Linked DNA regions of Homo sapiens. The protein of the gene in region 1 purifies or fractionates together with the protein of each later gene. This does not show direct contact. Each region holds a gene or a part of one and is shown in the gene's direction. Other genes may lie near its edges. The genes, in order: FUNDC2, DUSP22, ERGIC2, ANKRD13C, MZB1, ANXA8 and HK3.

Region 1 (3,500 bases):
CTCAATCTAGTTAGGTATAAAAGTAAATATTTTCTTATTTAACGTATTACTTCTTGTAGGAAACTTTGAGGGAAATTTTGAGTCACTGGACCTTGCGGAATTTGCTAAGAAGCAGCCATGGTGGCGTAAGCTGTTCGGGCAGGAATCTGGACCTTCAGCAGAAAAGTATAGCGTGGCAACCCAGCTGTTCATTGGAGGTGTCACTGGATGGTAAGTGATGTGAAAGATGTCCACTGTCTTTTGTGCATGATTTAGTATTGCAGTTATAGGTACCATCATCTCCTTTAACCAGTGAAAACACATTGGCTTCTGTGAAATTGGTCACTTAATGTGGAGCATGTATCTAAACATCATCTTAAAGTACCATTTAATGGTTACACATAATGATTGTTTCCTATATGCCAGGTTCTGTTTGAAGTATTTACATAGATATCTCATTTCCTTCTCACAACTCTGGAATTAGTACTGTTATTTTCTATCCTCATTTTATAGAAACTGAGGCTCAGAAAGGTTAGTTTGCCCAAGGCCACATAGCTGGTAACTGGTAGAATAAGGAGCTAACTACTTATTAGCTATGTCAGATGATAACTTAATGTGACACAGCTTATGGTTTCATTTGTAATAAATTCAAAAAGTAATAGCAAATTTCATAGGTGAATATTGAATCCATTAATCTCATAGACTCTTTACATTTGAAAAATTTTATAGCACCATATAGCAAATATAGAACAGCACATTTAACAGGTGTACATTTTAGCAAATACTTGGAGTGAACACCTATGTAACAACTGCTAAGGTTAAAAAAAACGTGGCTAGCGCCCTAGAAACTCGAGAGGTTATTAAGCAGTTATTTCATTGCTTTTCTTTGTAGTTTTAACACCAGTTATGTCACTAAATAACATACTGTGGTTTACCTGCTTTCCACCTTAAAGTAAATGCAATCAGTATGTATTCTTTTGAGTCTTGCTTTTTTCGCTCAACCTGATGTTTCATATATTCAACTACATTGTGTATAGTTGTAGTTTCTTCACTTTCACTTGTATTTTGAGTTCCATTATGTGAATATACCACAGTATATCCAGTTGATGACTGATATTGGAGTTGTTTCCATTTTTGGCTAATACTATGCTTATATGAGTATTAGATTTCCCAGTGTATATGTGCATACATTTCTGTAGGGTCTGTACCTAGAAATTGCTAGGTAATGGGTATAGGTATCTTCAGCTTCACTAAATAATGTCAAACCACCTTCCAAAACTGTTTTTAACAGTTTACAGTCCCAGCAAGGACCAAATGAACCTGTTGTTCTACATGGTGGCACTTGATTTTGCCAGGCTATTAAATTTTTAAAAAATTAGTTAATTTTTCCTTAGCGAGGTAATCAAGTTAAATCCAGACTATAAAAATTTTACCAGTCTGGTAGTTAGGTAGTAGTATTTCATGGTGGCTTCATTTACATTTCCCTGAGTAGGAGTGACATTGATCGACTTTTACGTATGTTTGTTGACCATTTGGATCTCCTCTTTCAGTTCCACTCTAGTTTTTTTCCTCTGAAGTTGTCATTCTTTCCCTTGTTAAGCTGTAAGAGTTCTTTATATATTCTGAATATTCTCAGTCCTTTGTTAGTTGTGTGTATTATAGATATTTTCACTCATTCTGTGGTTATCTTTTCGTTTTATGGTATCTTTTGATGAACTGAAGATCTTATTTTTAATATAGTCAATTTTATCAATCTTAACCTTAATGGTTAGTGATTTTTGTGGCTTATTTAAGTAATCTTTGCCTACCCCATGTTTCAGAACTTTTATTATTTGACCTTTCACATTTAGATTTATTATCCACCTGGAATTGTTATTGTGCTCAGTATGTGGTAGATTCCTTCTTTTCTTCCCCATGTGGAATACCCATTTGTCCCAACTTAATTTATTGTGAAAGCTATCCCTTTCCCCGCTGCTTTATGTGAGTGTGTGTGCGCATGCATATGTGTGTGTCTGCTATCTTGTTCTTTAGGAACATCTTGGCTATTTTCTTTATCTCTTAGTTTTTAAATTTAATAAATAGGTATATTATAAGTTGCACATATTTAAAGTATAAAATTTGATACATTTTTACATATGTACATGCCCATAAAACCATCACCACAGTCAAGATAATGAACATACCTATCACTTCAAAAGCTGCTTTGTACCTCTTTGTAATTCCACGCTCTTTCCTTCATGCCATCCTCCCGCCACTGATCTGCTTTCTATTACTATAGATTATGTTTTCTAGATTCTTTTTAGAAGTGGAATTACATAGTATATATTCTTTTTTGTCTGGCTTCTCTTATTCACCATAATAATATATTTTTTTGTTTTGAGACGGAGTCTTGCTCTGTTGCCCAGACTGGAGTGCAGTGGCACGATCTTGGCTCACCGCCTCCTGGGTTCAAGCAGTTCTCCTGCATCAGCCTTCACCATAATAATTTTGAGATAATCTGTGCTTTTCTGTTTATCAACAGTTCATTCCTTTTTATTGCTAAGTAGTACTCCATTGTATGGATGTACCACAATCTGTTTCTCCATCCACCTTTGATGGACATTTGAGTTTTTTTTTCACTTTTTAGCTGTTACAGATAAAACTTCAAGTTTGTATACAAGTGTACAAGTCTTTGTATGAACATATGCTTTCATTTCTTTTGGGTAAATATCTAGGAATAGTATGGCTGAGTCACGTAGTAAGTGAATGTTCTAAATTTACAAGTACCTGCCAGTTTTTAAAGTGCCTGTACCATCTTACATCTCCACCAGCAATGTGTGAGGGTTCCAGTTCCTCTGCATCCTTACTAACACTTGGTATTATCTTTTTGATTACGAACATCTTAGTGGGTATGAAGTTGTATCTCATTGTGGTTTGAATTTGCGTTTCTCTAATGACTAATGATGTTGAGCATTTTCACGGGCTTATTTTTTGCCATTCATATATCTTTGATGACTTATTTGTTCAAATCTTTTTCCACATATTTTTATTGGGTTGTTGGTTTTCTTTCACTGCTGAATCGTGAGAGTTCTTTAAATATTCTGGATAGAAGTCTTAGATATGTGATTTGCAAATATATTACTTCTCTGTAGCTTTTCATTATCTGAACTGTACCTTTCAAAGAGCAGAAGTTCTTAATCTTGAAGTGCAGCTCTTTTGTAGCTCCAGCTTTTGGTGTCATGTCTGAGAATATTTGCCTAATCCAGGGTCACCAAGATTTTCTCTCGCTTTTTCTAGATTGTATATAGGTTCGGATTTTATATTTAGTTCTGTGATCCATTTTGATTTACTTTTTGTATATAGTATAAGGTAGGAATCCAAGTTTTTTTTGCGTATGGGTATCTAGTTGTCCCCACATTTGTAAAAAAAAGACTGTCTTTTTCTCCACTGAATTGTCTTTACACCTATGTTGAAAATCAGTTGACTATATGTTTTTGAGCTCTTTGTACTGCCAAATTGATCTAGGTGCCATTATCATGCTG
Region 2 (3,500 bases), on another chromosome or scaffold:
CTTAAAAGTGGTATTTTAATATCACCTAAATTTTTTTTCCTGACGTTGCTGAATGTTTAGAACAATGTTTCTTGACTTCTGCTTCATCATCAAGGCTTGTTAGAGATGGAGATTCCTCAGCCCCAGGGTAGATCTTTCTAACTAGCCTCTTGGCAGTTCCTAGGGTGTTAAACTTCAGAGCCACTCATGTAGAACACACACACACACACACACACACACACACACACACACATACTATAAAGAAGGAAGAAAACCCTTGTAATTCCGTCTCTGAGCTGGGGCTGTCTTTGTACCAGTCCCGCCATCCTCCCTGCCATGTGTTTGTCTCTGCATTTTTATACGTTGGGTTTGTGTCATATTTATGGTTTGGTACCTGCTTTACATTATACCCTGAGCATTTTCCCATGCCATGAAATAGTCTCCAGAACCATGATAATTAAACATTTGCCTTTCTTTGTTGTTGTTGTTGTTTGGTTTTGTTTTGTTTTGCTTGAGATAGACTCTCACTCTGTTGCCCAGGCTGGAGTTCAGTGGGGCGATCTCGGCTCACTGCAACCTCCGCCTCCTGGGTTCAAGCGATTCTCCTACCTCAGCCTCCTGAGTAGTGGGGTTTACAGGTGCACACCACCACGCCCAGCTAATTTTTGTAATTTTAGTAGAGATGTGGTTTCGCCGTGGTGACCAGGCTGGTCTCACACTCCTGACCTCAGGTGATTGGCCCGTCGCGGCCTCCCAAAGTTCCGGGATTACAGGTGTCAGTCACCATGCCCGGCCTAAACATTTGCCTTCTGATCCATTTCTCCTGTATCATTTAGGAAAGTTCAGCCAGGCTGGGATGGGGGTGTAGGGAAGTGGACCTCCTCATTTCCTGCTGGCCCCCTGTTTTGTAGATTAGTAGAAGGGTTCCACTTCAGGGGATCACACCATTTGGTCTTCTTTTTGCAGGTAGGGACATTGGAAGGGAATATAATTTTGTTATCTTCTTAGTTTCATATGGAGATAATTTAATAGCCAACTGATAGCTGATAGACAGTTCTGTTTGGAATTTCCAGAAAAAGTTTCATTTTTTAATTGTGCTTTAAAGTGAATATAGATGATGTAAACCACAGTCCTGTCTGAATCCAGAACTGTCCCTGCTTTTGACGTCTGGGGAAAGAAGTAATGGGCAGTTTCCTTTGTCTTCTAGAGTTAATGGTTTTGTATTTAGCTTTTTAAGAATTCTCATCATTAAGAGGCCATTGAATTAAAAAAATATTTTAAATATCCCTAATATTATGTGTCTCATGCAGAAAGACTGACCTAAGGTCATCTCTTACAAATGCTAACTACAAAATGGTCTCGTAAATTTACCTTCTTGATGATGTAATCCATGTAATCCATCATGATTACAATGTTTATTAATCTAAGTGCATTTCAATTTCTAGATTAACACTTTTGTTGCCTAAAAGGAAGAAGCTGAGGCAAAATTAATACAGAGGGTTTATTTGGGCCAAGCTTGAGGACTGTAGCCTGAAACACACTTTCAGGTTGCCTTGGGGAGTGCCCCGGAGAGTAAAATAGGGGCTCAAGTTTTTAAAGAAAAAAAGACGAATCAGGAGAGTGGCAATTACAAAAAATTGTTCAGCAGGAATTCTCATTGGTTTATAGAAATAACATTGGTTAGTGCCTGGCTATACGATATTGAACTATGATGTATGGCATTTTATGTCTACTTGGCATCAGTCTAGGGACCACATAGCAGATGGCTTCAAGGTAACCATTTAGCTCAAGGGGGAGGGAGAGGAGACTGCTGTTATATTACAGAGGCCTTTCTGCACCTGATCATTTAAAGGGACTCTTCTTCCTCATAGAAAGTTTTTTTCTTTCTCACTCTGGGTCAAAAGATGAGACAATCAGAAATAAAGTTAGGCAAGGCCGGGCGCGGTGGCTCACGCCTGTAATCCCAGCACTTTGGGAGGCCGAGGCGGGCGGCTCACGAGGTCAGGAGATCGAGACCATCCTGGCTAACACGGTGAAACCCCGTCTCTCCTAAAAATACAAAAAATTAGCCGGGCGTGGTGGCGGGCGCCTGTAGTCCCAGCTACTCGGGAAGCTGAGGCAGGAGAATTGTGTGAACCCGGGAGGCGGAGCTTGCAGTGAGCCGAGATGGCGCCACTGCACTCCAGCCTGGGCGACAGAGTGAGACTCCGTCTCAAAAAAAAACAAAAGAAATAAAGTTAGGCAAAATATATGAAAGCAGTAGCCCTAAGTTTCCTACATGTATGGTCAGTTATGAAGTTTCAGGAAAGAAATATGCAAGTCATTTTGTGGGTTTTTTTTTTTTTCTGGCTAGACTTTAGGAGTAATTAACTTGCAAAGATATCAAAATGTCCATCCCCTTTCTTCTCTGACAGATGCCAGAGACGCGGAACAATTGAGCAAGAACAAGGTGACACATATTCTGTCTGTCCACGATAGTGCCAGGCCTATGTTGGAGGTAAGAGAGCACCGTGGGGCGTGTGTGGGTGTCCTCATTTGTATTCCGTGGGAGTACCTACGACGTTAATGAAGGCAACCAGGTTCTCTCCAATGCGAACGTACTCCTGTGATCTCTGGCGGCATTCCCATTGTGTTCAGGCCGTGTTGATGTTAACACGCTGTCTGTAGCGTGGCGCGAGGGTGTGTGCTTTTTCTGATCACACTCCTGCTGCATTGCCACTTTGGCTTTCGTGGCTAAATGCCTAGGAATAAGCTGAGGCTGCATTTCCCTCTGGACCTTAAGGACATTTAAACCCCATTTTCATTCCTTTCAGAATTATCTCTGGTTTTAAAATCCAAAAAACTTCAGCCTGCTCATTTCCTGATTTTGTCCCATTTAAACTCAAATAGCTACCACTGGCATTCAGGGGTCACAGAAAACAGAAGGTGAATCGTCCTGGAGGGTTCCCAGGGCCGCTCTAATGTGGAGACTCTCGGTGTAGAAGCTGTTGTGTTTTAGGTTTTCGGGGTAAACAGGGTGTGTCTGCTTGTGCACTGATTCCAAAAACATCTTTAAATTTACCCTAATGGACGGTTTGAGCTGTTGGCTAGAGGTAAAATCTATTTATGTTTATTAGCCTTGACAGAGCCCGAGTTACCTCCTTTTAGAAAATAATGCTGTGTGGTTGTGATGTGTATGTGTTTTTCTATTTTAGGGTGGGGTGTTGGAAAGGGAGGGGTGGCTTGTTCTGAAAGAAAGAATCCTGGTTCAGGCTGTTTTCATTTAAATTTATATTAGGCAAGAGTAGGTAATGTTTTTTATTTCAAATGTATCTATTTTCTTTAGCCATTAGGGCTGCCAGATTTTAGTTAGTATAAAGTAAGCTAAAATTGATGAGAATGTAGAATAATAAATGATTCTACTAAACATTGTAGTACCAGAGAATCATAGGTGGTGAACAAACCTCAATTAATTTCTCCAGATCTCCGAGCTCCTACTTCCTTGTATTGTTTAGCTCATAATTTTTTTTTTTTTTTTGCTA
Region 3 (3,500 bases), on another chromosome or scaffold:
GTAGTTTCTTTAGTTTTCTTCCTACTGTAATATCAGTTCCTTGTATTTATTCAAAGGCTAGCTAATTTGATTTTGGTTTAGTGTATATCTTAAGATATTAGTAGAAACTGAAAATATGTCTTGTGGTGGTTATTCTCTTATAATTTTATTTTATTCTTAGTTTCTGTACTATAAAGAAATGCTGGCTGGGTGCAGTGGCTCACACCTATAATCCCAGCGCTTTGGGAGACTGAGGCAGGAGGATCACTTGAGCCCAGGAGTTTGAGACCAGCCTGGGCGACATGGCAAAACCCTGTCTCTACTAAAAATGAAAAAAATTTAGTTGGGCTTGGTGGCGTGCATTGTAGTCCCAGCTACGCAGGAGGCTGAGGCGGGAGGATTGCTGGAGCCCAGGAAGTCAAGGCTGCAGTGAGCCGTGATTGCGCCACTGCACTCCAGCCTGGGCGATGGAGTGAGACCCTATCTCAAAAAAAAAAAAAGGAAAAAGAAAAATGCTACTTTTCCATAATTGATAAAAGGATGTTAACGATTTTAAGGAATATTTAACTAAGTCACCAATTCATTTTTTTAAACATCTGTGTTGCCCATCTTATGCTTGCTGAGAACTTGTTTTACCGAGTATAAATATGTTGCTTTCATTGGTTCTTTTAAAAATTTTTTTTGTTAGACATTAAGTTGTATGTAACATTACATTTCAGATTAAATGTTTTTATTTTTTATTTGTTTGAGACAGGTTCTTGCTCTGTTGCCCAGGCTGGAGTGCAGTAGCACAATCATGGCTCACTGCAGCCTTGACTTCCTGGGCTCATATGATCCTCCTGCCTCAGCCTCCTGAACAGCTGGGACCCACAGGTGCATACCACCATGCCCAGTTAATTTTTAAATTTTTTGTAGAGACAGGGTCTGGCTCTCTTGACCAGACTGGTCGCGAACTCCCAGACTCAAGTTCGAGACTGTTCTTGAACTCCCACACTCAAGCAGTCCTCCTTCGTCAGCCTCCCAAAGTGCTGAGATTACAGGTGTGAGCCACCACATCCAGCTAAATTTCAGGTTAAATGTGTTTAATAGAAGAATATATTTGGCAGTAGTTTTGTTGCTACTGAATTGATAAAAAGTTTTTTTTGTATTCTAGACAACCAGATGTTCCAATATTTTATTACAGTTGTGCCAACAAAACTACATACATATAAAATATCAGCAGACACCCATCAGTTTTCTGTGACAGAAAGGGTAAGTTGAATCCAACCGGTAAAATAATTTGGTGATTTTTTTAAAAAAGCATTTTAAAGTTTCCTGGCTACAAAATAAGGTGGTGTTTTACTTGGTGTCTTCCCTCATTTAAAAATCTGTGGAAGTTTTGAAATGAATTAACATTTTATTTTAAATCAGAAATATGTCAGAAATGAATATTAGTATATTCTAAAGCAATAAAAGTAGATATTTAAAAAATCTGAAAGGTTTTCTATTGCATTAAGACTTAAAATTGTTAAATTGTGATGGCCTTAATTATTTTATTCTTAATGTCTTAATTTTATAAATGTTTTCTCATAAATTGATATAAGCAGTTCTTGATCTGGCAGCAGATTCTTTGAATTCTGTTACTTATTTATTAATAAATGTACTACCTTCTCTGGGCATACATGGTTATCATGGATTAGATAGCAAATTTAGAGGGTTTGCCTTCCTAAATTAATGCTTTGTATTCATCTGATTGTGATGAAGAACATTCCACTACCTCAGGGTGGTATGGCCATATAAGTAAATACTGACAGTGATGAGCAAAGTTTTGGAATTGGACAGTTTAATAGATTTCTTATCTACTTTGGGGTCATGTTTTCTTATTTTTGTGTTTGAATGGTGAATTCAAACACTTGTATCCAGAAGAATTCTAAGGCAAAATTTAAGTGCTTTAAAAATTTTGCTTTCCTTTATATAGTGTTTTCTTTTACTAGCCTTATAACTCATGATGACCATGCCCTCAATAATTGTGGAATTTTTTTTTTTGTTCTTATGAGATTAGGTATTGGAGTTTTTAGGGGTGAAGTGTCATGTGTCTATAGCTTTTCACTTGGCTTGGGAGAAAGTACAAGTTCATATAACTGCATATATATGTATAGGTATGTGTGTATATACACTCACACAAAGAAACTAGGTAAAGTTTATACCAGAACATATTGTGCTTTTCAACATTTCTTTAAGGAGTAGGGAGATTCCATTTCTCACCTGTAAGATTGGCAAACACCTCAAGGCAATACATACAGTTGAGAAGACTTTGGGGAAAATAGGCAAACATGCAGTGCTATGGGGATGCAAAGTGGCATAATCTTTGAGGAAGGTAGTTTAGCAGTATCTGCAAAAGGACCTATGCATTTATCCTTTGACTCAGCAATTGCACTTCGAGAAAGCTATTCCAAAGATACGGTGGGCAAAAATATAAAAATGTGTGTTTCAGGCTATTCGTTGCATTGTTATCTGTAATAGTAGAAGATTAGAAACAACCCAGATGGTACATCTACACACACTGGAGGAAGATGCAATTGTTAAAAATCAAATGAGAAGGATTTCTATATACTGATAGGAAAATATCTCCAGGGTATATTTTTAAAATAACAAAGCCAAAAATACATATGTAATAGAATCCCAGGGCATTTGACTGTTGAAGGATGTGTTTATACTGATAGGGTGACTAAAATAGTTTTTTAACTTAAAAAAGAATGGAGTAACTGGGGTTGGTAAAATGCAGGATAGGGGGTGGGAGGGAGAGGGCTGACATTCATTAGTCCTGGAACCCAAAGTGAATCATTATTAGTCTTTCATTATGTATATGCCCTGATCCCTAAAACAGTTTCTACCCTTATAGGTAGTGACAATATATTTATAACTCAGCATGATATTGAGCATTTTAGAGCTTTAAGATGTAGTCACTTTATTGGAAACTTGATCAGTTGGCTTATAAGGCTGTATTGTGCTAGTAATAGGGAAAGAGTTTTGTAATGCCCTACGTAAAACTGTTTTAATTTCCCTTGGTAGTAGTTAACCTCATTATTTGTATTCCTAAAGCTTGCAGTTTAGTTATAGCATGAGGAACATGCCATACATATTTGTAAGCTCTTGAGCTCAGTAGAAAACTTGTATCTAAGGTGACCTTTTTGAGAAAAAAAGAATGATTCTGCTCTTTTGATAGTTTCAAAAGCTAACCACACAAAGAATACAAAATAATTTGTCTCTGAAGAGCTTAGTCTAGTAGGACAGTTCATAAGGAAATGTGGATGTCCTTCTTTTACAGTAGGGCTTCAGGGCTTAATATTGAATGTATGTAAGTAACCAGATGACATGAATTCTGTTTCTCTCTTCCTCCTATTTCTCCCCTTCCTTTTGCCTCCCTTTTAGGAACGTATCATTAACCATGCTGCAGGCAGCCATGGAGTCTCTGGGATATTTATGAAATATGATCTCAGTTCTCTTATGGTGACAGTTACTGAGGAGCACATGCCATTCTG
Region 4 (4,286 bases), on another chromosome or scaffold:
CATTATTGCATGTATTTTTTCAGTCTCTACTGCTGTCTCAAGAGGATGCTTTGAACTGTTGATTGGGTAATGTTTTAACATAAACGGAACTCTCCACTCCACCGAAAAAGAAAGAAGAGGAAGAAACAGATTTATCTGAACAGACTGAGAAGAAAATTGGAGGTGAAAAGTTGAGTGACTGGGGAGGATTAAGAGAGGCCCATCGAGTTGTTTGTTTGCGGAGATGAGTTAGCAGTAGTATAAACTTTAAGAAAGAAGAGATCTGGCCGGGCGCAGTGGCTCATGCCTGTAATCCCAGCACTTTGGGAGGCTGAGGCTGGCGGATCACTGAGGTCAGGGGTTCAAGACCAGCCTGGCCAACACGGTGAAACCCCGTCTCTACTAAAAATACAACAATTAGCTTGGTGTGGTGGCGCAGGCCTATAATCCCAGCTACTCTGGAGGCTGAGGCAGGAGAATCGCTTGGACCTGGGAGGTGGAGGTCGCAGTGAGCCGAGATTGCACCACTGCACTCTAGCCTGGACTACAGAGACTCTGTCAAAAAAACAAAAAAACAAAAAAAAGAGAGAGAGATCTGAAGTATTTGCTCTCAGAACATAGGGGGACTTTGGAGAGTTAAATGGGTGAAGATCTTTAGGATGTTTTGCTAAGCCCCCTCCTTACGTCCTCAGTGGCCAGCTTTAGTTACTTTGTTAAAGTTTTATGGTTGGCAGATTTACGTTTCTTCAGAGTTTGACACTAGGTTGAGGTTGGCCATGAACTAATACAATTATATTTCAGTTACACGATTCTTTGCCCTCCTTGAGTGTCCCCACCCTCATATATGTTAACTCTGACATCTGCCCGAAATTCATTCATCTAATAAATATTTGAGTGGCCTCCCCTCTTTCCGATTGCTGGACAGCCCATCATTTTCCAAAGTCAGCACCTAAACTCTTCTATGACTTTCCTGACAACTCAACACTAAAATTCGTCCCTCCCTTTTTTGTGTGCAACCCACCTCCCCGCCTCCGCTTTTAATTGTTTGGCCTTCATTCCTCTTCTACAGTGCTCCCTGCAATCAGTACTGGTGCTGTACATATTTGCTAGCTTCGTACATACGGCACGAAGTAGATGCTCAGTAAATGTTGGTTGACTGAGTATCCTCTGCATCTCGGTGACATCACATCCTGCGTGCCGTGGCGTCATTCTGCATTCCTCTGCGGGAGGCTCAGATCCGGAGGGTTTAAGTGGTTGTTTATAACATGCACCGAACATATCCAACGGAGGCTGTGGTTTCCGACCGCCCACAAAAAGCGCGGTTGGCGGGAGTGCGGGTTCGGGGTCGGCTGGCAGCTGGGAGACTCCAGCTCTGGGCGGAAACACACTGCCTCGGAGGCGCCGGCGCCTAGTGATTCTGGGAATAGAAGGTGCGAGGGAGGGAGCGGGTGGCTCACTTATCGCGGTGTTTTCTCTCTCTTCACTCCTGGGGGAGCTCTCGCGAGAGGAGCAAGAGGAAGATGGCCGTGCCCTGTTTTTCGGTGTAAGGCAGCGACGGCGGCTGCGACGGCGAGACTGAGATCCTGGTGTCGTGGGCACCTGAGTTCTAGCTTCCCCCAGCGAGCGCGCGTCCCTTCGTGCCTAGGCGAGAGCCGGCTCTTCCCCGGGAGATGCGTTTGTCCCAGGCTCGGGGGCTCAGTGGGAGTTCATGCTGCGCTGGAGGCTCTTGGCCACCGCTCTAATCGCCTTGTGCCGCCGCAGCGCCAGCTCCGTCGCCAGCGGTGAGCCTCCCGATTCCCCCCCTTGCCCCTGGCGGCGGCGATGACCGGGGAGAAGATCCGCTCACTGCGGAGGGACCACAAGCCCAGCAAAGAAGAAGGGGACCTGCTGGAGCCCGGGGATGAGGAAGCGGCGGCTGCCCTCGGCGGTACCTTTACCAGAAGCAGGATTGGCAAGGGCGGCAAAGCTTGTCATAAGATCTTCAGTAACCATCACCACCGGCTACAGCTGAAGGCAGCTCCGGCCTCCTCCAATCCCCCCGGCGCCCCGGCTCTGCCGCTGCACAATTCCTCCGTGACTGCCAACTCCCAGTCCCCGGCCCTTCTGGCCGGCACCAACCCCGTTGCTGTCGTCGCGGATGGAGGCAGTTGCCCCGCACACTACCCGGTGCACGAGTGCGTCTTCAAGGGGGATGTGAGGAGACTCTCCTCTCTCATCCGCACGCACAATATCGGGCAGAAAGATAATCACGGTGAGGAGTGCTAGCCCCTCTCCACCTCTCTCCTTCCCCGAGCCTAGGGTGTGCCTCCCCAGGCTTCTGGAATCCTAGGCCCCCTCCAGCAGACTCTTCTTTTTGCCCATCATCCGGGCCGTTCGGTAAATCATGATCGACTCAGTAATAGCGTGCCAGTGGTCAAGGGGTTGGTTCTTGTGGGTGCAAAGGAATGTATCCTCCTTGCCCACTTCAAAGTTTGTCGTGAGAAGCTGTTTTGTTTGAGACAGGCCTTCGATTTGCTGATTCTGGACTGTCAGAAATTTTAGGTTGCCTCCCACCCAACATGGTTTTCTCCCTTTGTTTATGGAGCTATATATCTTTATTTCTCTCTCTTCCCCCTACCTTGGCATTTTAAATTTTGAACGCATAAATTGCCCTCCTCCCTTCATTGCTCACATACAGATCCCATCTTGACTGCAACTGGTTGTGATTTTGCCTGCCACCAGGTTGTTTCTTTTTTGTCTGCTTTCAGTAAACTTAGAATGTTAGATTTCTGAAAGCCACACAGTAGAAATTTGTTGGTATTTGATACGTAGAACAGTTAAAGTGACTTCTCAACAGCCGATTTTTGTTTGAGTAGAGATTTGATTTTTTGCTTGTTTTAAGTAGATAATTGCTAATAGTAATGTCTCATCTTGATGACTGTGACTAAAAATAGTATTATGATTTTTATGGTAATTTTATCTTAGTCAATATTGACCATTTCTTTTTGCCTTGTCAGCTGAATTTTTTGTTTAATTCTAAAAAATAATGTGACTGAGTTGACTTTTAAGCAACAGTAAATTTATTATTGAAGACTAATGTGAACACTGACATTTTAACATTTAATAGCCGTTTTAAACTGGGTAGTTGGCAAATATTGTTGATCGCTCTGCTATTAATATGAAAATTGTATACATTCAGTTAGAACACACTGAACCAACTTTGTGCTCAAAATGATATACGTATCAATGAAATATTTGCCTGTGAAATAAGCTCACTTAATTCCATTGGATCGTAGGCTTTTTAGGACAAAAATTCAGATAAAAAAAACGAGTAAGATTTCTCTTGGCTGTATAATTATCTAACAACTGCATTTGTTTTCAGAATTTACAATGTTGTAATTGTAATAAAATCACCACCTATCATTTATCATAAATCCCCAAAAAAGTATGTTAAAGTTGCAGCCAGTTTTTCTTTCCTACATTTAAATTACTTAATCATTTTACTATTATAGTACAAGGATAATGTTGTTTGTTGATGATGGTAATTCTATGCTAGCCCTTTGGAAAACAGTTGTTAGTGGGAGATGGGTTGTAGCTTCAGTTTATTAGTCTATTATGAGGAAGTTTTTCAAATTTGGTTTACATAGTAGCCATAGTTACATTACCTTGAAATATCCCTGAAACAGATAAAAGGTTTGAGAGTTAACTCCCTTTGAAAGAAGAGATGGATGAATATCACTGAAGCTATTGAATTACAGGATTGTTGGGCTTCCATGTCTTCTTCAACCCAACATTTAGGAGTACATTTGTTTAAGTTCAAATTCTGTTCAAAGTAATTAGAATCCTGTATACTCTTAAACTCTTGTCCTTAGCCCACTGAAATTAACTTTTTTTTTTTTTTTTTTTTTTTTGAGACGGAGTCTTGCTCTGTCGCCCAGGCTGGAGTGCAGTGGTGCAATCTCCGCTCACTGCAAGCTCCGCCTCCCGGGTTCACGCCATTCTCCTGCCTCAGCCTCCTGAGTAGCTGGTAGTACAGGCGCCCACCACCGCGCCAGGCTAATTTTTTTGTAATTTTAGTAGAGACGGGGTTTCACTGTGTGAGCCGGGATGGTCTCCATCTCCTGACCTCGTGATCTGCCCGCCTCGGCCTCCCAGAGTGCTGGGATTACAGGCCTGAGCCACCGCGCCTGGCCTTGAAATTCACTTTTTTAAAGGAAGGTTTTTATTGTGTTTAGCTGACCTTATATCATTGATGTTTCTGATTAATGTAACCGGTGGTTCACATACCTGGGGTAAATATAATTGCTTTCCCCCCTGCAATGTGTACA
Region 5 (3,935 bases), on another chromosome or scaffold:
CCAGTCACAGCAAGGGACAGGGCCCAGAGCCTGCACTTCAGTTGCCCTGAGATTCCAGGAGCCTCTGAGGGAGATGAGGGGGGTCTGCATGAGGTGGGAGGTGGTGTGCGTGGGGGTCTGTATATAGTTCTGAACCGGAAATGGCTGGCCCTTGCCAGCCTGGTGTGTGATGTGATGAGTTTGGGAAGGACAGTTTCCATGAGAAGCAGTGGCAGGGATGGGGATGGATGCCTTCGTTGTTCCAGGCCTGTCAGGGGGCCCAGGTCCCTAGCAGTCCCTGCCCTCTGCCCTGGACTGGAAGCTGACTAGGAGAGCTACGAATCAGAACAACTGGCCATTTTCTAGCTGGAGATGCCAGCTCCGATGGCATGGAGGGCCCTGGGGCCACCCCAGGTGTCTTTACCTCATCCTGGTGTGTAATAAATCACTGACCATGGAGCCATCATGGCTGAAATAACTGGTGTGAGGTGCCTGATTTCCTGCCACAGCCTCTCAACACCCTCCACAGTGCCCTTCCACGCCTGGGTATGGCCTGGGTGGAGGGGACCTCAGGGCTAGGGAAGGAGACCATGTGTGTCTTGGAAACACTGTAGCATCCCTGTCTCCCTGAACTTGCCTCCCAGGAGGCTGGCAGCCACACCTCATTCCTTCTGGTGGTTGAGTGGCCAGGGAGCCTTGGGGTCAATCAGGCTTGGGTTTCTCAGCATGGCCCCTCTAGCTATGTGGCCTTGGATTTGTCACCTCTCTCTGAGCCTTTGTGTCGGAAGAGGCAGAATAAACATGACAGTCTCATTTCTCAGAAAGGTCAATGAAACAAAAAAAGATGACGGCAGCCAACCAACTCTTCCCACAAGGCACTCAGCACAGTGCCTGCCACTTGGCCAGATCACAGGATGTGGGCAGTATCGGCCCCTATGTGTTCCTGCCTAGGCCCAGCCCCTCTCCTTGCCTCAGTGCTCCCTATCTGTGAAATGGAGCTGAGATGGCTGGAGCCAGGGTCCAGCTAGAGGACAATGCCCACGTGGCATCTTCGGGGCCCTGGAGGAGGGAGTGGGAGGAGGATGGGAGGGGTGAGGTGTCAGTTCCCCATTGGTCTAGGCCAGGTGTTCTGTGGCGGTCCCCACACCACACAAGCACACACACATCTGCACCTCAACCACAGACTACACTTGCTGAACTGGCTCCTGGGGCCATGAGGCTGTCACTGCCACTGCTGCTGCTGCTGCTGGGAGCCTGGGCCATCCCAGGGGGCCTCGGGGACAGGGCGCCACTCACAGCCACAGCCCCACAACTGGATGATGAGGAGATGTACTCAGCCCACATGCCCGCTCACCTGCGCTGTGATGCCTGCAGAGCTGTGGCTTACCAGGTGAGTCCTTCACCACTGTCACCCTGCCCTGCTCACACCCCTTCTCAAGCCAGACCCCTCCACCCACCTCACATTCCACCACCGGCCTTTGATCCCCAATCCCTACCACTGGGCATCAAGCCACAGATGCAGCCTTTCATATATTCCATGCCTCAGTTTACCCATCTGCCTGCCTAACAGCAGACAATCTGGGAGACCTCCTCAGTATTTTGAGACCCCAGGGAATCACTCACTTGTCCTTAGACTTCTCCCTTTCCAGGCCCATCCTTGAGTCCGGACTCCCTCCCCAACCCTGACGGGGCGGCTTTGGCTATGTGTACATGGTGCAAGTGCACACGTGTGAGCGCCTGCACGTGAGTATGCGTGTGTCTGGCTTCACACACACACCTGCTGAGCATGCCTGCGTGCCAGTGTCTCTGTGAGGTGGGGGCCTGGGAGTACTTGTGTGATTGAATATTGGGCTCCAGTTTTTCTTACCTTGCTCTTGTGGTTTAAAATGGCACGTGCCGGCCGGGCGCGGTGGCTCACGCCTGTAATCCCAGCACTTTGGGAGGCTGAGCGGGGCCGATCGCCTGAACTCAGGAGTTCGAGACCAGCCTGGCCAACATGGTGAAACCCCGTCACTACTGAAAATACAAAATTTTAGCCGGGTGTGGTGGCACATACCTGTAGTCCCAGCTACCTGGGAGGCTGAGGGAGAAGAATCACTTGAACCTGGGAGGTGGAGGCTGCAGTGAGCTGAGATCGTACCACTGCACTCCAGCCTGGGCGACGAACGGCGTGAGACTCTCTCTAAATAAATAAATAAATAAAAATAAAATGACACTTGCCACTGGGCAGGTGTGCCCTGGACGAGGGACCCCAGTGCCCAGGCCTCACCTACCACTTCAGCATTTCTTTCCCATCCCCCATCCCCATCCCAGAGAGCTTTGGGGGCTGGGGGAGGGGCCATGCAACAGCCTCACAGGTGCTTCCTGCTCAAACGGCTCTCTTGCCACTTTATTTTCCCCAGAGACTCTGCTCCTATCCTCCCCACCTCCCCCTAACTGAGCAGCAGTCCTGAGGCCCTGCCTCCCAGTCCCTCCTTGTTCCAGATGTGGCAAAATCTGGCAAAGGCAGAGACCAAACTTCATACCTCAAACTCTGGGGGGCGGCGGGAGCTGAGCGAGTTGGTCTACACGGATGTCCTGGACCGGAGCTGCTCCCGGAACTGGCAGGAGTGAGTTGCCAATCCTGCCCCCCACCTCCCTCCTCCAAGGGCAGGCCTGGTGGGTGGAGATTCCCACTCAGCCGCTCACACAACACACACACTCCTCTAGGACTCTGGTCCAAGGGAGGGGCTGGCTGGGATGAAGTCTGGGCTCTGGAGCTGAGAGCAAGTGGGAGAGCAGAGGGCCAGTGGACAAGGTCACCTTGTGACCTTGGGCCAGGGGCTTTCCCTCTCTGAATTCCACAAATGCCCAGCATGTCCAGCTTGCTGTGGAGATGGGTCTCTCCCTGGCTGGGCTCCTGCCAAAACTGTACTCCTCTCCTCTCCACTGCCACCAGCTACGGAGTTCGAGAAGTGGACCAAGTGAAACGTCTCACAGGCCCAGGACTTAGCGAGGGGCCAGAGCCAAGCATCAGCGTGATGGTCACAGGGGGCCCCTGGCCTACCAGGTGATGCCCGGGGCTTGGGGATAGGATGAAGCTCCTGGAGCCTTGGTTTGCCCCACTGTGGGCTGGGCAGCATCTGAGGCTCCTGCTGGGCTCCCCTAGGCTCTCCAGGACATGTTTGCACTACTTGGGGGAGTTTGGAGAAGACCAGATCTATGAAGCCCACCAACAAGGCCGAGGGGCTCTGGAGGCATTGCTATGTGGGGGACCCCAGGGGGCCTGCTCAGAGAAGGTGTCAGCCACAAGAGAAGAGCTCTAGTCCTGGACTCTACCCTCCTCTGAAAGAAGCTGGGGCTTGCTCTGACGGTCTCCACTCCCGTCTGCAGGCAGCCAGGAGGGCAGGAAGCCCTTGCTCTGTGCTGCCATCCTGCCTCCCTCCTCCAGCCTCAGGGCACTCGGGCCTGGGTGGGAGTCAACGCCTTCCCCTCTGGACTCAAATAAAACCCAGTGACCTCACTTCTTTTCTCTGCAAAAGGTGCTTGTGGGGCTGGGAGTGCAGACATTGGTGTTTCTGCTGATGTCCCTTGTGAAAAAAAAAAAAAAACTCTCAAAATCAATTTTTTTTTTTTGAGACAGTCTCACTCTGTCACCCAGGCTGGAGTGCAGTGTTCTTGGCTCGATGCAACCTCCACCTCCCAGGTTCAGGCGATTCTCCCACCTCAGCCTCCTGAGTAGCTGGGATTACAGGCACCCACCATCATGCCCGGCTAATTTTTGTATTTTTAGTAGAGACGGGATTTCACCATGTTGGCCAGGCTGGTCTTGAACTCCTGACCTCAGGTGATCCGCTCGCCTTGGCTTCCCAAAGTGCTGAGATTACAGGCATGAGCCACCGCGCCCGGCCTTCAAAATGCTTTTTCTATTCTCTCACTCGACAACAGCACAGAAGATGGCTGTGACCGAATGCGTG
Region 6 (4,157 bases), on another chromosome or scaffold:
CGCTTGCCACTTTCCAGCTACAGCTGAACCTTATATCCTGGTTTGGTTCCTGATGACTTTCAAATTCTCCTGACCCAAACGCAAGCTCAGAAGCACAAGCACATTGTTGGTGGCAGTACAGACTGAAACACCCTCTTTGGATGGCAGTTCCTCTCACAGGACTTTATTCTCCAGGTATGCACAGGCACACACAGGTGCCCAAAGGATAAACACACAGATCTATTGTAGCATATTTGTATTACTGAGAGATTAGAAACATCCTAAAATGTTAACCAAATCGCTTGGATGAAAAGTTTTGCTCTGCTTATTAGGTTTGGCGTACAATATGGAGGTGACATCTGTTACTTCCAGTGTATTATAGATACTTTAGCTCCAAAAATGATACCTGTACCTAGATGGGCACCAAAAGGGAATGGTTAACAAATATTGCATATACAGGGGTATGGGGCAGCTCCGGGGCTGGGGATGGCGGCGGCCAGGTTTGCAGCGGCTCCAGGATGAGCGGGTGGATCCCGGGAAGCGTGGTGAAATGGGCTGGCTCCCGAGCCAGCCGGGAGGACGCTTACTACAGCTGCTCAGAAGCACCACTGGAAGCTCAGATGTAGGTGCCCCAGCCAGAAGCAGAGAGGGGTTCAGAGAAGCTACAGAGAAGCCCCTCCTGATGCCCCAGGGAGCAAGCCAACTCCTTCCAGGCTCCAGGAACACCACAAAGCAATATGAAACCTGTTCATGAGAGGAACCAGGAATGCCTTCCACCAAAGAAACGAGACCTCCCCATGACCAGCTGCTCCACTAACCACACATCCTCCAGTGATGCCTCTGAATGGTCCCGAGGGGTTGTGGTGGCCGGGCAGAGCCAGGCAGGAGCCAGAGTCAGCCTGGGGGGTGATGGAGCTGAGGCCATCACCGGTCTGACAGTGGACCAGTATGGCATGCTGTATAAGGTGGCTGTGCCGCCTGCCACCTTCTCACCAACTGGCCTCCCATCTGTGGTGAATATGAGCCCCTTGCCCCCGGAAAAAAAAAATAATATTGCATATGCAGTTGATTAAATGGCATACTCCATGGCTATTAGGAGTGATGAAAATGGGCTGGGTGCGGTGGCTCATGCCTGTAATCCCAGCACTTTGGTAGGCCAAGGTGGGCAGATCACCTGAGGTCGGGAGTTTGAGACCAGCCTAATCAACATGGAGCTGTGTTTACTGAGTGGGGCTTTCGCAGGCTGGAGCTAAGAATTTCCAGTATGCGTAACAGCCACAGCCCAAATATCTGCCAGTGAGTTGTGTAATTCCCCAGAGCAGGCCTGGGCAGTGTCTGGGTGGGGCCTGGGAGCCACAGGAGATGCCCAAAGCCAGGCAGAGCCCGGGGGCGAGGGGACGGCAGGCAGGTGTGGCGCTGCCCTGGGCGGGCTTGCACCCCCACACCCAAGTGAGCGGCCTGCTCACTCCTCAGCTGCAGGAGCCAGACGTGTGGAGTCCCAGCAGAGGCCAACCTGTGTCTCTTCATCTCCCTGGGAAAGGTGCCCCCGAGGTGAAAGAGATGGCCTGGTGGAAATCCTGGGTAAGTGGGAGCTGGCAGGAGATTTGGGTTCCTGCATGGTGTTGGGTGCTGGTCACCAGGGAGTCCTGAGAAATGTAAAGTCGCCCTTGGCTGGGAGTGGCTCAGTCTACATTTGGCTGCCTCCTGGGCCAAGCATGGAGGGTGGGAAGGGGCCGAGAAGAAACAGTCCCAGGCCTAGAGTGCCCACGGCAGGGATGGGACCTGGGCCGGGAGACAGGCTGATGAAGAAATCTAGAAATGCAAGGGGGAAGCTGAGGTTTGAGAAGAGTCCAGGGGAGGGACCCTTGCAGGGGTGGGGCCACTCAAAGGAGGGGGTATCATGGTTGAGCCTTGTGTGTAAATGTGTATGGGGTGCACACACGTGTGCATTTGGGGAGAATCAGGCATACTGCTCCTGGCAGAGGGAACTGTGTGCAGAGGGTCAGAGGGCAGGGAGCTTGGCTTCGAGGGAAGCTGCTCAGCACAGCTCAAGGGTCCTGGTACCGGAGGAGATGGACCTGGGGAAGCAGGCAGGGCCAGGTCCTGAAAGGCCTTGCCTGGCAGGCTGAGGAGTTAGGCTTTACCTTAAGAGAAGTGGGAAGGCACTGAAGGGCTTTGAGCATGAGAGTAACCTGAACCTGCTGTTGGGGACCCATCAATGCCTTCACCTCAGGGATCAATGATGTTCATTTGTCAAGACTGGAGAGGGAAGAGGGGAAGCAGGAGGACCTGGCCTGCTAGAGCCTGGAGGAACCCGGGGCTCAGGGCAGCCCATCCCCAGCAGAACTGATGGGTTCTCGGGAGCTTTCCATCTATGGTTGAGCCTGAGGCCATCGCTGTGCTAAGGAGTTGAATATCCAGAAGGGGACAGAGGTGACATCTCCCGGCTGCCGGCTCTGCACACCCTTTTCCTTTCCTCCCAGGCAGCCTCAGGATGTCAGGGCTGCACTTTCTGTTTTGCAGATGATGAAATGAAGGCTCAGAGACACTGAGTGACTTGCTAGGGTCCAATGGCCAGCAGGCTCCAGTCAGAGAGCAGTTGGGTCTCTCTGCCCAGCCCCAGGTTCTCTGTGAGCTTTTGTGGGATACCCAGGCTTGTCCAGCTTCAGGGAGTCTCTGGATCATAGATGTCGCAACCCAAGCAAGTGTCCTCAGGGTCAGACATGCTAGGTTCTGGACAGGTGGGACAAAGAGGAAGCCAGGCTGAGGTGGGGCAGCTGTCCTGGCCCCCAGGGAAGCAGCCTTCTTCCAGGACAAGGGGCCATGGAGGCCTGCAGCTTCAACCAGACTGCTGGGAACCTGCCTTTGAGGAGGTGGACATGGCAGGGAGAGCCCAGTGCTGGGTGGTTTCCAAAGTCAGTTGCTGGCCAAGGCAGTCTGGCACTGGGCCTTGCACCCAGTGCAGCAGGACAAAGGGCTGTCCATGTAGGGACCTGCCAAATTGACAGGATCACTGTGACACTCACTGAGTCCCTACTCTGTGGCCGGACCCTTCTCTAAGCACCTCACATTCAATATCTCCCTTGAACCTCACAAGGAGTCTATGAAGTAGACACCAGTATCCTTATCCACAGATGAGGAAACTGAGGCACAAGTAGGCTAGGCAGGTGCCCGAACTCACTAGTAAGTGTGAGAGTCTAGGTGAGAATCTGAACAGCCTGACTCCAGGGCCAAAACCATACCCTGGTCGTCCATACCCCATGTGAGAGCTGGCTAGGGGTAGCAAGTTCACAGGTAGACCCCACCTGCAACAGCTGAGCTGCTAGCGAAGACCCAGTGTCCTCTAGGCACAAAGCTGGGCCAGGAACGCGATGGGAGGAGATGAGGGAGCCACTGGAGAGAGATCTGTCTGCAGGCAGGGTCCATCTGCACCTCTCTTTTTGGTGTTGCCTTTTCCTCTGTGTCTCTCATAGAGACAAACCCATCTCCCAGGCCTCTGGGCAGCCACGTAGCAGGGGAAGGCCAAGGCGTGGCAGCTCCCCTGTGCCTGTCACAGAACAAGTTATATTAATAGATGTAGTCACAGGCTGGTCTGAGTCACCTTTTCAGTGAAAATGTGCCTGTCTGGACTAGCACGGCCCTGGGCAAGACCCTGCAGGAGCCTGAGGCTGACCCTTCCTTCTCAGCAGGAGGTCTGGAGCTCCAGGACTCCACACTGATAGCCAGGGCTCCGATTCCCAGAACACTTATTTTCTAAAACCTTAGAGTGGGAAGTGAGACAGAGGCTTCTCAATGCAGCAAAATCAGAACCAGCCAGGGAGCTGCTTACAAATGCTGCACCTGAGACCTACCGCACCCCTGCGGGACTGCATGCTCCTCAGGGATGCGGTTACACAGCCTGGCCACTCGCTGGTGCACCACAGCCCCCGAGTGCTGGGGCAGAGGGAAGCCGGCAGGCACTGAGAGCTGAGATGCCTCCCACATTCCCAGATGACCTGCGTTCCTGTGGGTGAAGCTTCCTTCAGTGGAACGTTCCAGGAACACTCATTGTCTGGGAAAGGTGGAGTCATCAGTAGGGCAGGGGAGGTAGATAGAGCTCAGCTTCTGAGTCAGGCTGGGGAGTCCCAACAGCATCACTTACTAGCTGTGTAAGGGAGTCCAGCTCCCTTTCTGTAAAG
Region 7 (3,500 bases), on another chromosome or scaffold:
TCTGGTTGACTGCTACAGGATCTTTGATGGTTGGAGGTTCTGAATTCTGCTCCCAGCTTCCTTCCTGGTCCCCTTCAGAAGGAAGGAAGTTGGTCTGGGTTACAGACTCCTAGGGCCTATAGAGTAAATGGTTGACCCAGGTTGTCCCTTTTCTCCCATAGGTGGCCACCTTCCACTGTGGAAGCTCATGGACTCCATTGGGTCTTCAGGGTTGCGGCAGGGGGAAGAAACCCTGAGTTGCTCTGAGGAGGGCTTGCCCGGGCCCTCAGACAGCTCAGAGCTGGTAAGTTCAGCACTGGGTTCCTGTTTCATGCTTGTCTAAGGCCTTCAAGAGCAGCGTGACTGAAGCTGCCATGGGGCCCTGGGCTCTCACCCATGCAGCCCCTTTCCACTGAGCTTTTCATATCTGAGCTGGTAACGATCTCCTTTCATGCTCCAAACAACTGCAAGGTTGGGCTGATCATCTTACAGGTGATGAAGAGGGATATAGAGAAGTGTTATGACTTGAGTTTAAGACATGACAGGAGCTTGAGCTGAGGTGTTTCAGCTCCAAACATGTCATTTTTGCCACCTTGCCACACAGGTGCCGCTCCCGCCCCAAGTGGGTGACACAGTCTAGAGTGGACTTTCTCAGGGTTATCTGGTCAAAAGTTGTGTTCTTGAGACCTTTCCTTTCCCGCCTCTCCAGTTCCTCCTGCATGTCTCCCTCAATGTAGCCGCTACAATCAGGCACACAGACGATTTTAGTGCCAAACTCATGCCTGAGGCTTGCTCAGAAGTGAGTTTCTTCTTTTTCTGTCATCTTGACCAAGATTTAGAAGCTGTCTCATACCACACCCTTGAGCAGGAAACTCTTGTGTAAGCCATTTCATATCTCTTAGTCTCTGTTTCCTCATCAGTAAAATGGAGGAAAATAAAGTCTAATCCTCCCCACCCCCTGAAGGCTAATGGAGATAAAGGACTTGCCTATGGCCGGGCGCGGTGGCTCACGCCTGTAATCCCAGCACTTTGGGAGGCCGAGGCAGGTGGATCACCTGAGGTCAAGAGTTCAAGACCAGTCTGGTCAACATGGTGAAACCCCGTCTCTACTAAAAATACAAAATTAGCCGGCATGGTGGCACATGCCTGTAATCCCAGCTACTTGGGAGGCTGAGGCAGGAGAATCGCTCGAACCCGGGAGGCAGAGGTTGCAGTGAGCCAAAATTGTGGCAGTGCACTCCAGCCTGGGCAACAAGAGCAAAACTCCATCTCAAAAAAAAAAAAAAAAAAAGTCCGGGCGCAGTGGCTCAGGCCTGTAATCCCAGCACTTTGGGAGGCCGAGGTGAGCGGACCACAAGGTCAGGAGATCAAGACCATCCTGGCTAACACGGTGAAACCCTGTCTGTACTAAAAAATACAAAAAATTAGCTGGGCATGGTGGCAGGCGCCTGTAGTCCCAGCCACTCGGGAGGCCGAGGCAGGAGAATGGTGTGAACCCGGGAGGCAGAGCTTGCAGTGAGCCAAGATCGTACCACTGCACTCCAGCCTGGGTGACAGAGCGAGACTCTGTCAAAAAAAAAAAAAAAAAAAGGACTTGCATAGAGGAGGTGCCCACTAAAGGGTACTTGAGTCATTCTCTGCAGTTTCTTTAGTTTTCTGGCATATTCTGACATCCACTTGACTAGGCTTGTTGCCCAGATTGTGGAGGCATTACCCCTCGCTGCATTTCATGCTCCCACTTCCCCCTTGTCCAACCTGTACCCCAGACCCTGCTGCAGACAGTTCTTCTGTGCCTGACCCACAGCCGTGCCTCAGGAGTGACAGCGGTGGCTGGGCCACAGTGCCTGCCCAGCCAGGACTGGCTCTAGGGCCTGCTGTCATCTCCTCCCTCGCTTCTTGCCCCTCCCTGATGACACTCCTGTGCAGGCCCACATCTGCCCTGCTGGCTCCATCACATACACCTGCGGTTGAAAGAATCCCTTTCGGCTTTGGGGGACTTCACAGGGACACCAAATTTCCCATGGTCCTGGACCCCCAACTCAGCACCACAGGCCTTACCCTGTGCTCCCCTTGCCATGACCTTAGGTTGAAAAAAGTTAGTTAACCACGTGTGGCCAGTTCCCAGTACCATCTCAGAGGCCCTTCCCCACCCCTTCCACCAGGCTTCTCTTTGTCATCAGAGAGGGTATGGAGTCAGGCTCTCCAGGCTGGGTGTGCTTTGTGCTCTGAGGACAGGGAATCCGTGTTCCACTGAGCATCTCCTATGTGTGACACTGTTCCTCCACTTCAGGTTTGCTGTCGTCTCAGTCCTCATGGCATCTCTGAGAAGTAGGTACTATTGTTCCTGCTAGATAGAGGGGTTGCTTGCTCAGAGAGGTGAGGTGATGGGCCCAGGCCAGCAACACAGCAAGTTGGTGACAAGAGCCAGTGTTGAAACCACATTGGACTTCACATGCTCTCTAATGCCTTTCTCCTTGCTCTTCTGTCTGAGGTCTCTCCCTGCTCTTCCTGGGGTGTCAGGGGTGGCTCCGATAGCTTCTCCTGGCTTGTGTGTGCCTCACCAGGATCTGCCAGGGAAGTCCTTCTGTCTTTCTTGCAGTTCTGCTGTCTTCTAGTCTCTCCTCCCGAACATCTCAATATGCCCAAGAGGAAAAGGAAGAAAAACAATTTGCCCAAGCCATTGACTTCTCCGTGACTCTACTGTTTTCATGAAGCAATACTAAAACGCCCCTCCCATCCCAATGGCACTTGGCACTTCCACATACATTACAGCCTTTAATTCTTATGCCACCACAACCATCCAATCAACAAATCCTGCTTCCAGCTGGTGCTCCTCGTGGCCCTCAGATGTAGCCTTGAGCAAGACATAGTCCCTGGCATTGGGGGACTTCCAAGTACTATTATTTTCTCAGTTTTGCACGAAGAGGTGACTGAGGCTCAGAGAGAGGTGTGACTTTCCCAGGACTGCAGAGCCAGAAAAAGGGAGTGCGAGGACTCAGCTGTAAGTTTTCTCAAGCCGGATCATCTGGGGTTTCTTTCCAGCAACTTTCATCAGCCTTGAGTTCTTTTCAAGGGAACTTTCTAGGTTTTATAAAGCTTCACATTGACATAGAAACATCTCTGCATTCAGGTAGATATGGGTTCAAATTCTCCCCTGCCCCTTCACAGCTGCTTGGCCCTGCAGATGACTTGCCCTCTCGGAGTCTCCGTTTCCATATTTCTAACACTTGGGCAGCTGGGGCTCAGAGGGGCAAGGCTGAGACCCCGCCTGTCCTGCAGCTCTTTGACTTTGCTGCCCACTGCCTGAGTTCCTGGATGTGCAGCCTGTGAGCAAACAGGGTCTGCAGCTTGGCTTCAGCTTCTCTTTCCCTTGTCACCAGATAGGCCTGGTCAGGGTGAGATAGAGTGGGCATGGGCACCCCTAGCAGGCATGGCTGCTGGAAGCATGTGCTGTAAGGCAAACGTGTAAGTGGACATCTGGCACCCCAGTTAGGATGATTCGCCTTCTTAGGGATCTGTTT

What was found.
Region 2: the proteins of FUNDC2 (region 1) and DUSP22 purify together in Homo sapiens (co-immunoprecipitation; one large-scale study listed by IntAct). This does not show direct contact.
Region 3: the proteins of FUNDC2 (region 1) and ERGIC2 purify together in Homo sapiens (affinity purification with mass spectrometry; one large-scale study listed by BioGRID and IntAct). This does not show direct contact.
Region 4: the proteins of FUNDC2 (region 1) and ANKRD13C purify together in Homo sapiens (affinity purification with mass spectrometry; one large-scale study listed by BioGRID and IntAct). This does not show direct contact.
Region 5: the proteins of FUNDC2 (region 1) and MZB1 purify together in Homo sapiens (affinity purification with mass spectrometry; one large-scale study listed by BioGRID and IntAct). This does not show direct contact.
Region 6: the proteins of FUNDC2 (region 1) and ANXA8 purify together in Homo sapiens (affinity purification with mass spectrometry; one large-scale study listed by BioGRID and IntAct). This does not show direct contact.
Region 7: the proteins of FUNDC2 (region 1) and HK3 purify together in Homo sapiens (affinity purification with mass spectrometry; one large-scale study listed by BioGRID and IntAct). This does not show direct contact.

Annotation. Positions count from the first base shown.
Region 1 is NC_000023.11:155,033,344-155,036,843, forward strand, and holds part of FUNDC2 (FUN14 domain-containing protein 2), read left to right. Parts: intron 1-59; coding exon 60-210; intron 211-3,500. UniProt on the Homo sapiens protein: Binds directly and specifically 1,2-Diacyl-sn-glycero-3-phospho-(1'-myo-inositol-3',4',5'-bisphosphate) (PIP3) leading to the recruitment of PIP3 to mitochondria and may play a role in the regulation of the platelet activation via AKT/GSK3B/cGMP signaling pathways.
Region 2 is NC_000006.12:309,487-312,986, forward strand, and holds part of DUSP22 (dual specificity protein phosphatase 22), read left to right. Parts: intron 1-2,393; coding exon 2,394-2,476; intron 2,477-3,500. UniProt on the Homo sapiens protein: Dual specificity phosphatase; can dephosphorylate both phosphotyrosine and phosphoserine or phosphothreonine residues. Activates the JNK signaling pathway.
Region 3 is NC_000012.12:29,343,173-29,346,672, reverse strand, and holds part of ERGIC2 (endoplasmic reticulum-Golgi intermediate compartment protein 2), read left to right. Parts: intron 1-1,132; coding exon 1,133-1,230; intron 1,231-3,390; coding exon 3,391-3,500. UniProt on the Homo sapiens protein: Possible role in transport between endoplasmic reticulum and Golgi.
Region 4 is NC_000001.11:70,351,923-70,356,208, reverse strand, and holds the start of ANKRD13C (ankyrin repeat domain-containing protein 13C), read left to right. Parts: upstream 1-1,486; 5' UTR 1,487-1,800; coding exon 1,801-2,230; intron 2,231-4,286. UniProt on the Homo sapiens protein: Acts as a molecular chaperone for G protein-coupled receptors, regulating their biogenesis and exit from the ER.
Region 5 is NC_000005.10:139,387,114-139,391,048, reverse strand, and holds MZB1 (marginal zone B- and B1-cell-specific protein precursor), read left to right. Parts: upstream 1-1,135; 5' UTR 1,136-1,192; coding exon 1,193-1,369; intron 1,370-1,628; exon of another isoform or gene 1,629-1,722; intron 1,723-2,381; exon of another isoform or gene 2,382-2,463; coding exon 2,464-2,588; intron 2,589-2,917; coding exon 2,918-3,028; intron 3,029-3,127; coding exon 3,128-3,284; 3' UTR 3,285-3,582; downstream 3,583-3,935. UniProt on the Homo sapiens protein: Associates with immunoglobulin M (IgM) heavy and light chains and promotes IgM assembly and secretion. May exert its effect by acting as a molecular chaperone or as an oxidoreductase as it displays a low level of oxidoreductase activity.
Region 6 is NC_000010.11:47,481,316-47,485,472, reverse strand, and holds the start of ANXA8 (annexin A8), read left to right. Parts: upstream 1-1,357; 5' UTR 1,358-1,452; coding exon of another isoform or gene 1,453-1,539; coding exon 1,540-1,560; intron 1,561-4,157. UniProt on the Homo sapiens protein: This protein is an anticoagulant protein that acts as an indirect inhibitor of the thromboplastin-specific complex, which is involved in the blood coagulation cascade.
Region 7 is NC_000005.10:176,892,847-176,896,346, reverse strand, and holds part of HK3 (hexokinase-3), read left to right. Parts: intron 1-161; 5' UTR 162-187; coding exon 188-283; intron 284-3,500. UniProt on the Homo sapiens protein: Catalyzes the phosphorylation of hexose, such as D-glucose and D-fructose, to hexose 6-phosphate (D-glucose 6-phosphate and D-fructose 6-phosphate, respectively).